Regions from separate parts of the Homo sapiens genome. Here all the other regions are linked to region 3. Evidence: fine-mapped expression QTL. A gene starts in region 3. Each other region holds a variant in brackets. All regions are shown on one strand. Distances are from middle to middle. Region 1 overlaps TNFSF4 (TNF superfamily member 4). Region 2 has its middle 31 kb from the start of TNFSF4. Region 3 holds the start of TNFSF4 (TNF superfamily member 4).

Region 1 (4,000 bases), 25 kb after region 3:
TTGGCCTCTGCAACCACACAGGGATATTTCTGCTATGCACCAGCCTCACTCCACCTTCCTTCCATCAAAAATATGTGTGTGTGTCTCAGTCCCTGTAAGTCATGTCCTTCACAGGGAGAATTAACCCTTCGATATACATGGCAGAGTTTTGTGGGAAAAGAATTGAATGAAAAGTCAGGAGATCAGAATTTTAAATTTGACTTAGCCACTAACTAGCCATGTAACCTTGGGAAAGTCATTTCCCATTTCTGGGTCTTGCTTTTCTTTCTGTTAAATGAGAGGAATGTTAAATATCTAACAGTTTAGAATCTTATGCTTACAGTGTTATCTGTGAATGCACATATTAAATGTCTATGTTCTTGTTGCTATGAGTCAAGGAGTGTAACCTTCTCCTTTACTATGTTGAATGTATTTTTTTCTGGACAAGCTTACATCTTCCTCAGCCATCTTTGTGAGTCCTTCAAGAGCAGTTATCAATTGTTAGTTAGATATTTTCTATTTAGAGAATGCTTAAGGGATTCCAATCCCGATCCAAATCATAATTTGTTCTTAAGTATACTGGGCAGGTCCCCTATTTTAAGTCATAATTTTGTATTTAGTGCTTTCCTGGCTCTCAGAGAGTATTAATATTGATATTAATAATATAGTTAATAGTAATATTGCTATTTACATGGAAACAAATAAAAGATCTCAGAATTCACTACTGGTGAGAGTGTTGGAGTGTTCATTTATCCTTGTCTTCTCCATGTTCTGAGTAGCTCATCCTCTGAAGAGGGGAGGACGGGGCAAGCTTTCCAGTTTCCTACTTGCCTCCAGTTTTAGCCATCAAAGACACATCTGAGGGATGGTTGAGGTGGCAAAGCCCATCTTTGCTTTTGAAAAGATGCTCACTGGAGGTCCTTAGAGTCCCTCTTCATGGTTCAAGAGAGACTGATTTAAATAGAGTTCTACCATGTACTGTTTTTCCTTTCCTCAGAACCTTATTTCTAACCCTGGATGATTTCTTATGTCCCCTCTCCTAAGTGGTAATTACATCTGCTGTCTCAATAAAAGGTCACAACTATTAATGGGTTTGTGTAGCATAGTCTGGCCACAGTGATCCCTGTGCTACTTTTGATGGTGCTGATGACGTTGTCCTCCTTAAAACACTTCTGTTCCCCAGCTTTTTTGACCTCACCCTTTTCTGGACTTCTCTTTCTGTTCTCTGCCTTTCTTAGTCTTCATCACCCCTCCTCTTTCTCTGCCACCCCTTTAATGCTGGTGTACTTCAGGACTCTACTCTCAGCCCTATTCTTTCTCTACAGCAGAAACTGCAATCTGGCAGCCAATGAGCCGCAGTCTAGCCTATGTCTGTGTTTCATCTGTTTATTAAGTTGAATTTAGTAGCTGATATTTAAATATCGGGAAATTTCTGATCTTTTTTGAAAACAAAACCAAAAACAGAAACAGGAGATCTGGTGATGCTGGGCCCAATTTTGGCATGGCAGCAACCTTCCCAAACAGAGTGGCAGCTTCCCTCTTTAAGGAGACTCCATGAACTCCATTTCCCAAGAGTTCTCCTCACCCACACAATGTGCAAATGCACTTACACAAACTCACTGCTGAAGTCCCTCAGGCATTTGAGTTGTGGTCTCTGCTCTATACCCTTGCCAATCTCATTGATTCTTGTGCCTTCAATCAATGCTCCCACATCAGCAATACCTAAGACCGTTTTTCAGCCCAGATGTCTTCTACTCCAGTGCCTCATTTGTTGTAATCACTTGTGTTATTAGTAATAAAATACCATTTAGTGAGTTCTTTCCCTGTGCCAGGCATCGTATTAGCCATTTATATAAATTGTTATTTCCATTGTCTCAACAATTCTTTGAGGTAAGTGGTATAATTCCTATTTTACGTCTGAAAACTTGAGACTCTGAGAGGTGAACTTGTCTAAACGCATGCAGCTACTAAGTGGTGGGGCTTAGATTCAAGATCAAGGGTAGTTAACACCCAAGACCACACTTTCAACCACTGCTACTCTGCTTCTGGGCAGCTCTGTATGGATGTAATGGGCTCTTCTACTTAGTATGCTCAAAATAGAACATTCTATCCTCTTTGGCAAGTCCCTCCTCCTGGTTCATGATGTTGGGTAAATGCATAAACATTTTTCCGTTTTCCCTTTTGGCCCAATTCATAAAAATACCTTATTTTTTCTATCAGTTGAACAAAAGCTTTGAATTACTTTTACTAGAAGAGAATAAGAAAAAGAAATGTTGTAAGAACATAAGAACCAAGTTTATAATACTTTTTGCAAAAGGTATGCACAGAGCTTATTAAGTTCAGAAGTGAATGTTTAATAAAGACCATACTGGGGTGGTTTTCAGTAGCATTTTAAAATATCAAATGGAATGTTAGGAGCACCAAGAAGTAGTCCCTG[C/A]GGATTTCAACCACTCTATACATGTATTTTTTATTACTTAAATATATTTTTTGGCAGCCCTTTGGAATTTTATTCCTGCAGCAGCCTTCCTTACGGAGTATGTGGATGGTTTGGAGCCTTCCTTAGCAGCATACCTTGTAACTAGCCATTGTAGCTGTTGTAGCCACTCATTCACTCCACGGGATCAAAGCACGGAAAGATGTTGTTAAAATGTAAATGTCAATATTACCTAGCAGAATTGGCACATGAACACTTTTAATGCCTTACCTTCCCTCCATCCCCTAAAGCTGGTCAGATGGCCCTGAGTCATGGAATGTAAGGCCCTCTAGTTCCGACTAAGGGCCTGGGGAACAACTGGAGTAGCATTCAGGGAGGGAACTGCCTTAGGAAGAGGAGATTGAGCGCTCAGAGTATCCTACCATTATGCCAGAGCCCTTGAGAAATCTGGTGCCATGGTCTCATGGGGCATGATTTTAAAATGGGCTTTGATCAAATTTTGGTCAATGGAACTGATTGACTTTGATCATATCCTTGTGGCTTATCTACTGAGGGAACAGAGGGATGTTAGGAGCGGAAACACAGACTTTTAGCATTTGGATTTCCCTGGAGTCCTGCCAATGCTGAGAAAATACAGCTCTTTATTGCTGTGGACATAAGACCTGATTTTTCTCCTGATTTATACGATCTTGGCCTTCTTTGGTATTTGAGGCTTGAGGTTAAAAACAAAGAACAATAACAACAAAATACAAAAGTAATTAACAGGAAGACCCAAAGTTGTAGAAATATTAGCAGAAGGTAATCTCTAAAGGTCATTTCAGTCCAGTGCTCTATTGTCATTTAGGATGAACTATTTATTAACAAGGACATACACCCTTTAAGTAATTTTTAGGATATGACAATCTGTATTCTCCCCTTATAATCAGTTTCAAGGTATAACATTCTATAATCCTATGATCATTCCTTAAGGCAACATGGCCTTTTAAATTTATGAAAATCTCACTTACTATTATAAAACCATCAACACTCAGCCAGTTTGAAATAAATTTTTTCTGCTTCTACTATATGCTATGCCAGGCATTGTGCTAGGTACTTAGTAATCATCTGTTTCCTTGAGAGAAGTAAAAATTAGCTGAGCTTGATCTCTTTTGCTCTCCCAAATACTTGTTGCTATCATGTCTATTGTTCATCGTATCCCTAACACACATGCATTACCTAGATGCACTTCAAAATACTGTTGCATCAGTAAGTAGCATTGATAAAATATACCAAATTATTTTAATTATTTAAATTAATACTATTTCTATCCCTTTAATCATGTTCATACTATTTTAAACTCTTGAACACTGACGCAAACACACTTCTTCTAGGTAAGTAATAAACAATTCTCATTGCATGCATGGTTAAATCTCATTTTATTAGTGGTCAAATAAATAGTAGTTTTTGAAAAGGCAGACATTTGAAAGTCTAAAATAATTTTATCTATGAATTTTCATTTCTAGGGTGTCAATTTGTAACATAAGGAGACCTGAGACAGAGCAGTAGATTTTATAATACATTACTTATATAATTAATGATACTTTATCC
Region 2 (4,000 bases), 31 kb after region 3:
AATGGTGGCTAGTTTTTCTATTCTGAAACTGTGTTATTTATAATATGAAAAGTAGATGTGTAACCATCATTCAAGGCTCAGCTCAAACATGCTCCTCCATGAGAACTTCTTTAATGTCACTAGGAAGAATATATCTTTTACTTTTTTTGAATTCCTGTAACATATAATTCTTTAATGGCACTTATTACTTTCTATTTTGCATTATAGTGATTTGATGCAAGTTGTTTTTTTAAGTTCCATAATAACAAGTTTCTCTACTTAACAAAGTGCTATGCCCATAAAGTTGGCCAGTAAATATTTGTTTGTGAATGACTAAATGATTTACCTTGAAGAAACTTAGCAGGGACAGAGACTGAAAACTGCAATTGCTAACAAAATTCCCATATAGAATCTGCATTTTTTATTTTAAAAAAAATTTATTTTAGGTTCAGGGGTACACACACAGGTTTGTTATATAGGTAAATTGTGTGTCATGGAAGTTTGGTATACAGATTTTTTCGTCACCCATGTAAGAACCCGATAGGTAGCTTTTCCATCCTCAGCCTCCTCGCACACTCTACCCTCAAGTAGGCCCCGGTGTCTGTTGTTTCCTTCTTTGTGTCCATTTGTACTCAATGTTTAGGTCCCACTTATGAGTAAGAACATGAGGCATTTTGCTTTCTGTTCCTGCATTAGTTTGCTTAGTATAATGGCTTCCAGCTCCATCCATGTTGCTGCAGAGGACATGATCTTGTTCTTTTTTACAGCCAAATAGTATTCCATTGTGTATATATACCACATTTTCTTTCTTTAAGGTAAAATTATAATATTTTCTAGTCTAAAAATTCAGTGGTAAAATATGCAAGCATAAAATTTACCTTTTCAACCATTTTTAAAACTTTTATTTTAGGTTCAGGGCTACATGTGTGGGTTTGTTACATAGGTAATCTGTGTGTCATGGGTGTTTGGTGCACAAGTTATTTCATCACCCAAGTAATAAGCACAGTACTCGATAGGTAGTTTTTTATCCTCTCCTAACCCCCATCCTCCACCCTCAAGTAGGCCCCAGTGTCTATTGTTCCCCTCTCTGTGTCCACATGTTTTTGTTGTTTAGCTCCCACTTATAAGTGATAACATGTGGTATTTGGCTTTCTTTTCCTGGATTAGTTTGCTTAGGATAATGATCTCCAGTTCCATCCGTGTTGCTGCAAAGGACATTATCTAGTTCTTTTTATGGCTGTGTAGTAGTCCATGGTATATATGAATCACATTTTTTAATCCAGTTTACTGTTGATGGGCATTTAGGTTGATTCCATGTCTTTGCTATTGTGAATAGTGCTGTGATGAACATATGTATCTATGTGTCTTTATGGTACAATGATTTATATTTCTTTGTGTATATACCCAATAATAGTTTTGCTGGGTTGAATGATAGTTCTGTTTTCAGAACTTTGAGAACTCACCAAACTTATGATTTCCATAGTGACTGAACTAATTTACATTCCCTCCAGCAGCGTATAAGCATTCTCTTTTCTCCACAACCTTGCCAACATCTGTTATTATTTTACTTTTTAATACTAGCCATTCTGACTCGTGTGAGATGATCTCTCACTGCGGTTTTGATTTCAGAGTCCATATTTTTTCTTTCCCAAAGTGACACAACATCTGAGGGATAGAGTATCCTCATTAATAATATCTCCTCATTAAATAGTGAAATATTCCTTCTGTAAGTTCAG[G/A]TTCTTCCCTTGGTTAATTTTTTTTTGTCCATACTGGTAGCATGGAAATAATTATCGAAGGGCCCATATTTTTACTGTTTTCTGAAGGTAGTTAGTTTTTACGGATATGATTTGTTAGGCAAGCTTCATAAATTATAATTATGTACCCACAAAAAAAGCAATTACACCACTACTAATTACCTGTCCACAACTTTTTGATACACAGAACAAGATACTTTGTATAGGATATAAGGAAGCTGTAGCATTCATTTTGAGTCTACGCCCCAGCCATGTACTTACAAACACAAGACATTTGTGAGAGGAAGCATCAGCCAGCTGGTCTTAGATTAGGAAAAAAAACACAAAAAAACAAAAAACCATGACTTCCTCCTGTCTTGGTAGACTGCTCTGTTAGTTTAGTGTCAATTGAAAATGGAACTCATGTATGCGCCAACAAAAGTCTTTCTGGAAGAGGAATAAACCTAGCTAAGGAGCCTGGGGAAAAATAGGGTCCCAAGCTTAGTCTAGACATGTAGACAGTTGAGCCTAAATCCCCATTACATAAGAAGTGCTGGTCTGACCTGATGATTGTTTTTCCCATAATGTTAAATAAAACAAGAGCCTCTCAAATTACAGTAAGTCATGCTCTTCATAAGACTTCTGCCAGAAATTCTCAAGTGGCTAAGTGGCAGCACAAGTTGTGCTATAACTTTCTAAACAAAAGCTTCCTTTTCAGGGGGCCTGATAGCATCAGGGAAGGAATGAGGGAGTACAAGTGAGGAGAAAGCAAAAATAAAGTAGGCATAGAGAAAAAAATCAAGGAATGGATAATATAAGAGCCTTTCAAGAATGTAGATTTACACTAGAGATTTATTAAATTTGAGGGCCTATAACAAAATTAATTTATTTAAACAAATATTTGTTAAAAATTCTTTTATAAAGTACCTGCCACTGTGTTAGGTGTTCTGGGGAATCTGAGAGAAATAGAAAGACACTAGAATAATATGGTTGGTCTAAAGCACTCAAGATTTAGAATCAATGGAGGCTTGTGTTCAAGTTGAGATTTTACCACCACTTATCAGCTGTATCCTCTGGTTTTACTTAATTGTAGGTCTACTGATCACTGCCTTCCCTGCTCTGCCATCATACAAATTATCTCATAGGATTGTTTTGAGGATTAAACAAAACACCAACCACGGGTCACAGATTATGACATTTTCAAGGTATTTAATAATTTTTAATTACCACTTGTAGAAACCACAGTCCCTGCCCGATAGGATCTTACTTCACAGAAAACAAAGACGTAAGAGACTCTAAAAGGAGTAAAGAAAGATGAAAGTCTGTAGGTTTACAAGATAGATGATTAAGATAAGTGGTATTTTTTACATTATTACCAAGTGGGACAGACTGTATAATCTGTATGAGGTGCTAGCCCTGTAGCTTTTTGTTTCATTATTGAAAATTCTATAGAAGTGACATTGGCCATATGGCAGTGTATGAGATACCAGCTTTCATTCCCCCACAGAAAACAATGAGACAGCAATTGATATGGTTTGGCTCTGTGTCCCCACCCAAATCTCATCTTGTAGTCTGGGGTGGGATCTCGTGGGAAGTGATTAGATCATGGGGGTGGTTCTCCCATGCTGTTCTGATACTGAGTGAGTTCTCATGAGATCTGAGGTTTCATAAAGAACTTTTCCCCCTTCATTCTGCACTTCTTGCTGCTGCCATGTGAAGAAGGACACGTTTGCTTCCCCTGCCACCATTGTAAGTTTCCCAATGCCTCCCCAGCCCTGCAGAACTGTGAGCCAGTTAAACCTCTTTCCTCTATAAATTACCTAGTCTCGGGCAGTTCTTTATAGCAGCATGAGAATGGACTAATACAGTAAACTGGTACCACAGAGAGTGGGGTGCTACTGTAAAGATACATGAAAATGTGGAAGTTACTTTGGAACTGGGTAACAGGTAGAGGTTGGAACAGTTTGGAGGGCTCAGAAGACAGGAAAATGTGGAAAAGTTTGGAATTTCCTAGAGACTTGTTGAATGGCTTTGATCAAAATGCGGATAGTGATATGGAAAATAAAGTCCCGACTGAGGTGGTCTCAGATGGAGATGAGGAACTCATTGGGACCTGGAGTAAAGGTCACTCTTGCTATGCAAAGAGACTGGCAGCATTTTGGCCTTGCTCTAGAGATCTGTGGAACTTTGAACTTGAGAGAGGTGATTTAGAGTATCTGGCAGAGGAAATTTCTAAGCTGCAAAGCATTCAAGAGGAAGCAGAGCATAAAAGTTTGAAAAATTTGCAG
Region 3 (4,000 bases):
TCTGTGCAAAGATTTTTCTTTCTCGGAGCCATGATATTAACACTGAGAAGAAATGCTGCTTAAGGTACAAGTATGTGCATGGTAAATGTTTATTTTTTTCATTCTTTTGACAGTAATTTAAAAATGTTATCTACGATTTTCAGCATGAATAGTTTTTACTACTTTTTCAGCTTATTTCTAGTTTCCAATAGTATTTATGGCTTTTTTTTTTTTTGCTGTGACTCTTAGTCATTTTTTGAAAATTGACGAGTAAATAGTTACTGATTTTAATACTCTTTTATGAAGAACTATTACACAAGAATTGGGCTTTACACACTGATTTTTCCTTCAGCTTTTTTCTCCACACCCTGTATGTAACACAAGCTTTGTTCAAGGGAATAACTATGACAAATATGTTTGGATACAATTTGATTTCTAGTTTTGGCTTGGAGTCTATGATATTGTGCCTTAGTTACCTTATCTTTCAGATAAAACTTAAATTTCTCAACACCAGTATGTTCTCCTAATGCAAGGCATAATTATTGTAGTGAAGGTATTAATTCATATTTTAATTGATTAATACTGTAGTCATAAATGTACTTTACATTTCCCACAAACTTTCTCTTTTAAGTATGCCTCATTTCCATTTTTTCTGTGAAGTGGTATAACAACTCATACTGTCAATATCCAAAATATTTCTCCCTCCTTTCTTTACATATCTGCTGGGTGCCTCATGGGGAGCTGAGAGAGACATACTTGGCCACAAAGAGAGACAATTCCGTCTTAAACAGCTTTTCCCCAGCATCCTTATGTTGTCCAGTACAGTGCCAGGCTCATGTGATGTACTCAGTAAATATTTGCCCATTTGAACTTTACATTATAAGTAATTTTATCATTTATTTCATTTCATTGTTTATTTTAGTGGTAAAGGGTACCTGGTGTCTATTGATAGAATACTCTTACTTTCCAAGTTCTGAGGCCAGCCACGACCTCAAAGAAAGAAATAATCTTCAAAGCTTATTTACATCTATTCATTTGTTCATTCATGGAAAAATTATGTACGGGAAAAATGTGAAGTGGAAGGAAAGGAGACAAGGATACCCTTCTGCTTCTTTTCTGGTATGCAGAAAATTAATCATATAATTGTTTATTGAATTTGCCTCAAAGGGTTAAATGAGAGAAAGATTGCAAGTCCATCTAACACAGTGTCTGACACATAGTAAATGCTTCCAAAAGGTAGTTTATTTTTATGCAATAGACTACAACCAAGGATCTCTCCTTTACTTCTGCATGACCCAGTGTCCTATTTTCTTGTTTTGTCTTTTTCATTCAAGAATGATCTGTGTGTGCTTTCTTTCTGAATCTGTGAGAGGGGTTCAATGTTTAGTTACATAGTAAAGTGCAGATAAGAACCTTGGGCCAGCATTTCCCCTAAATCTTTTCTATGATTTAAGACACCTTGGGGAAGGGATATATGAGCTGCTACATTAACGGATGATGATTTTTATCTTTACCAAGTGACCCACAATTTGTTACTGGTGCAATAAGTTAAGAAAATAGCATACTTTTATGACTGTCATTTCACAGTCACTCAAATCAGAACTGGAATGTCACAAAAACAACTCCCTGTTAGCCCAGAGGAAAAAAAAAAAGAAAGAAAGTAAAGGGGAAATTCAGATTAGTCACAAAGAAGTTCCCCCGCCTGCCTGCAAAAGTTGCAGCGTTAAAACTGAGAGAGTCCGCTTTGCTCTTTCAATCGCCTTTTATCTCTGGCCCTGGGACCTTTGCCTATTTTCTGATTGATAGGCTTTGTTTTGTCTTTACCTCCTTCTTTCTGGGGAAAACTTCAGTTTTATCGCACGTTCCCCTTTTCCATATCTTCATCTTCCCTCTACCCAGATTGTGAAGATGGAAAGGGTCCAACCCCTGGAAGAGAATGTGGGAAATGCAGCCAGGCCAAGATTCGAGAGGAACAAGCTATTGCTGGTGGCCTCTGTAATTCAGGGACTGGGGCTGCTCCTGTGCTTCACCTACATCTGCCTGCACTTCTCTGCTCTTCAGGTAAGATGCACCACTGGGCGCTGTTTTCCCACCAGCTCATGCTGATGGCAGCTGCAACAGCTGCAAACAGTCGCTTGGAAATAATCTTATGCCAAAAGTGTTGAGTTTTTTTTCCCTCTCCCCACAGCAATCGTAAAGTGTGGTTAAACGCCCTTCTGTCTCTCCTTTCCTTCCTTCTTTTCAGCAGTGGCAGTGGTAGGGCAGAGTGGAGGTAGGGCAGAGGCACAGCTTCTAGATCTTTTTCTTTTTCTTTGCAATGCAAGATTCCTTGTATCCCTTTATAAGCTGTCACTTTGAAGCTTTGAGTCACTGATATACCTGGTCTACCCATTGTGATAGTAATGTGTTTGATCAGGCAATTAATATTAAAAGGAAATAGGAAAGAGACCAGTTCCACTTTCCCATAATATTCATATACCCTATAGACCTGCAAGGTGATTTTCTTTGTAAAGAATGCTGAAGGTATCAATATTAATAGCGGAGCAATGTGTGCGTGCATGTGTGTGTGCCTATGTGCTCACTCATTCACCCCAATGATTTAATCAGATATTGTTTCTCACAATCTATCTCTTCCAGTCATAATTTAAAGACATCATTTCACCTTTTCCCTACCTTATTAAATACATCATGTAGTAGGAGATTATCCTTCTAGTATTTTCCCCATATAGTTAAAATATTTCCATTTTTCTTTCACTTTATTCTTGTTCCACACTTCTCTCTTTTGCATTATTTTTTCTTATTCAGTAGTTCAGATATACAAACATTATTAGGTATTTAAGGATGTTCTTCACTGCAGAAGATGCCACTGGAGAAAAATAAATCTATACTCTCTTCGTGTTCCTTTGTTGAGCTAGTCTGATAATCTTGTTTTCTAGGTGGTTGCTTTGGGTTAGAAATGTTTCTCCCTGATAAAGTTCAGGTAATACAAACTGATTTCTGATGGTCTTGTCTGAGATTAAGCACCTCCAATGAAACCAGAATGAGATGAGCAGTCTTGGCAAATGCCTGGGCTTGTTTCTGCCTACAGGAAATAGGGTTTTCAGTGCATGGAGGCTGGTAAGAGTGTGTGTGGTTATGATCACTGTACCACAGACAGTGCTTGTGTCTCCAAATTCCAGAAGTGTAGCTAGTGTCATGCTCAGGTCTGCAGAACAGTGAGCACAACAACACATTGATCCTCTCCTCATCACACCACACTCTTATGTCTTCTCGCAGAACTCTTTGGGTGAAATTAAAGTAGGCGACTCGGGGAGAGGGTGTGGGGGAAGAGTAAGGTGTCCATGGCAGGATGCCCAAGACATCGACCGGATGCCCAAGACATCAACCGGAATTAGGCTCTTTTGAGAAGAAAACAAAGAGAGTAACCAAATATAGAACAGCTGAGTGCATTCACCAGTCTGGGAGCCCTGAGAGTGCTTTTTCTAACAACCACAGTGTTACATATTTCCTTACACCATGGGATGATAAAACACAGGACACATGGCTCCATTCAAGGCTAACTGATTGCACAACGGCTCTGAGCAGGAGAGAGCAAAAGGTGAACCACAGTTGTACAGCTTGCTGGTGGTTGGGGTCACATTGGACTATCAATATCCAGGAGATGTTGAGAAAAAGAGGGGATCCTTTCCAACAAGTCATCCAGCAACTCTGGGACAGAAGGAAAGCTGTGGGAAGAAAAGCAGGGTGCTGGTTTCTAGGACACTAAACCTCATGGTGAGTGATCTCTAGGGGAGAATTAGCTTCTATAGTCCTGGCACAGAGATGGAAGCAAGACATAGGTGGTATATTTGAGTTGTTTGCTTAAGAAACATGCCCTGTCTACTCTGAAAATAGATTTCTTTTTTTTGCTCAGGATATTTGAAGTTCTTCACTTGATGTTAATTATAATTTTTTTATTTCTAATTAGCTAATGTAATTTCTTATATTGTTATAGGATCTGGGACAGCACAATGGGTCCTTA

What was found. PIP is the estimated chance that this variant, and not a neighbour inherited with it, causes the effect. A credible set is the group of variants that fine-mapping cannot tell apart.
Region 1: its variant is the best candidate, but not a certain one, in a credible set for the expression of TNFSF4 in whole blood (INTERVAL, PIP 0.75).
Region 2: its variant is the best candidate, but not a certain one, in a credible set for the expression of TNFSF4 in whole blood (TOPMed, PIP 0.63).

What each region holds. Positions count from the first base shown.
Region 1 is chr1:173,180,434-173,184,433 of GRCh38, reverse strand. TNFSF4 (TNF superfamily member 4) reads left to right here. Exons shown (of 3, transcript NM_003326.5): 3 at 1-703. Among named protein-coding and RNA genes, the nearest start is that of TNFSF4, 25 kb to the left of the region's middle. The variant C/A (reference allele first, on the strand shown) is at 2,417.
Region 2 is chr1:173,174,006-173,178,005 of GRCh38, reverse strand. It overlaps a transcript of TNFSF4 not described here. Among named protein-coding and RNA genes, the nearest start is that of TNFSF4, 31 kb to the left of the region's middle. The variant G/A (reference allele first, on the strand shown) is at 1,716.
Region 3 is chr1:173,205,064-173,209,063 of GRCh38, reverse strand. TNFSF4 (TNF superfamily member 4) reads left to right here and starts at 1,733. Exons shown (of 3, transcript NM_003326.5): 1 at 1,733-2,040. The coding sequence starts at 1,888. RefSeq lists an enhancer at 1,742-1,801.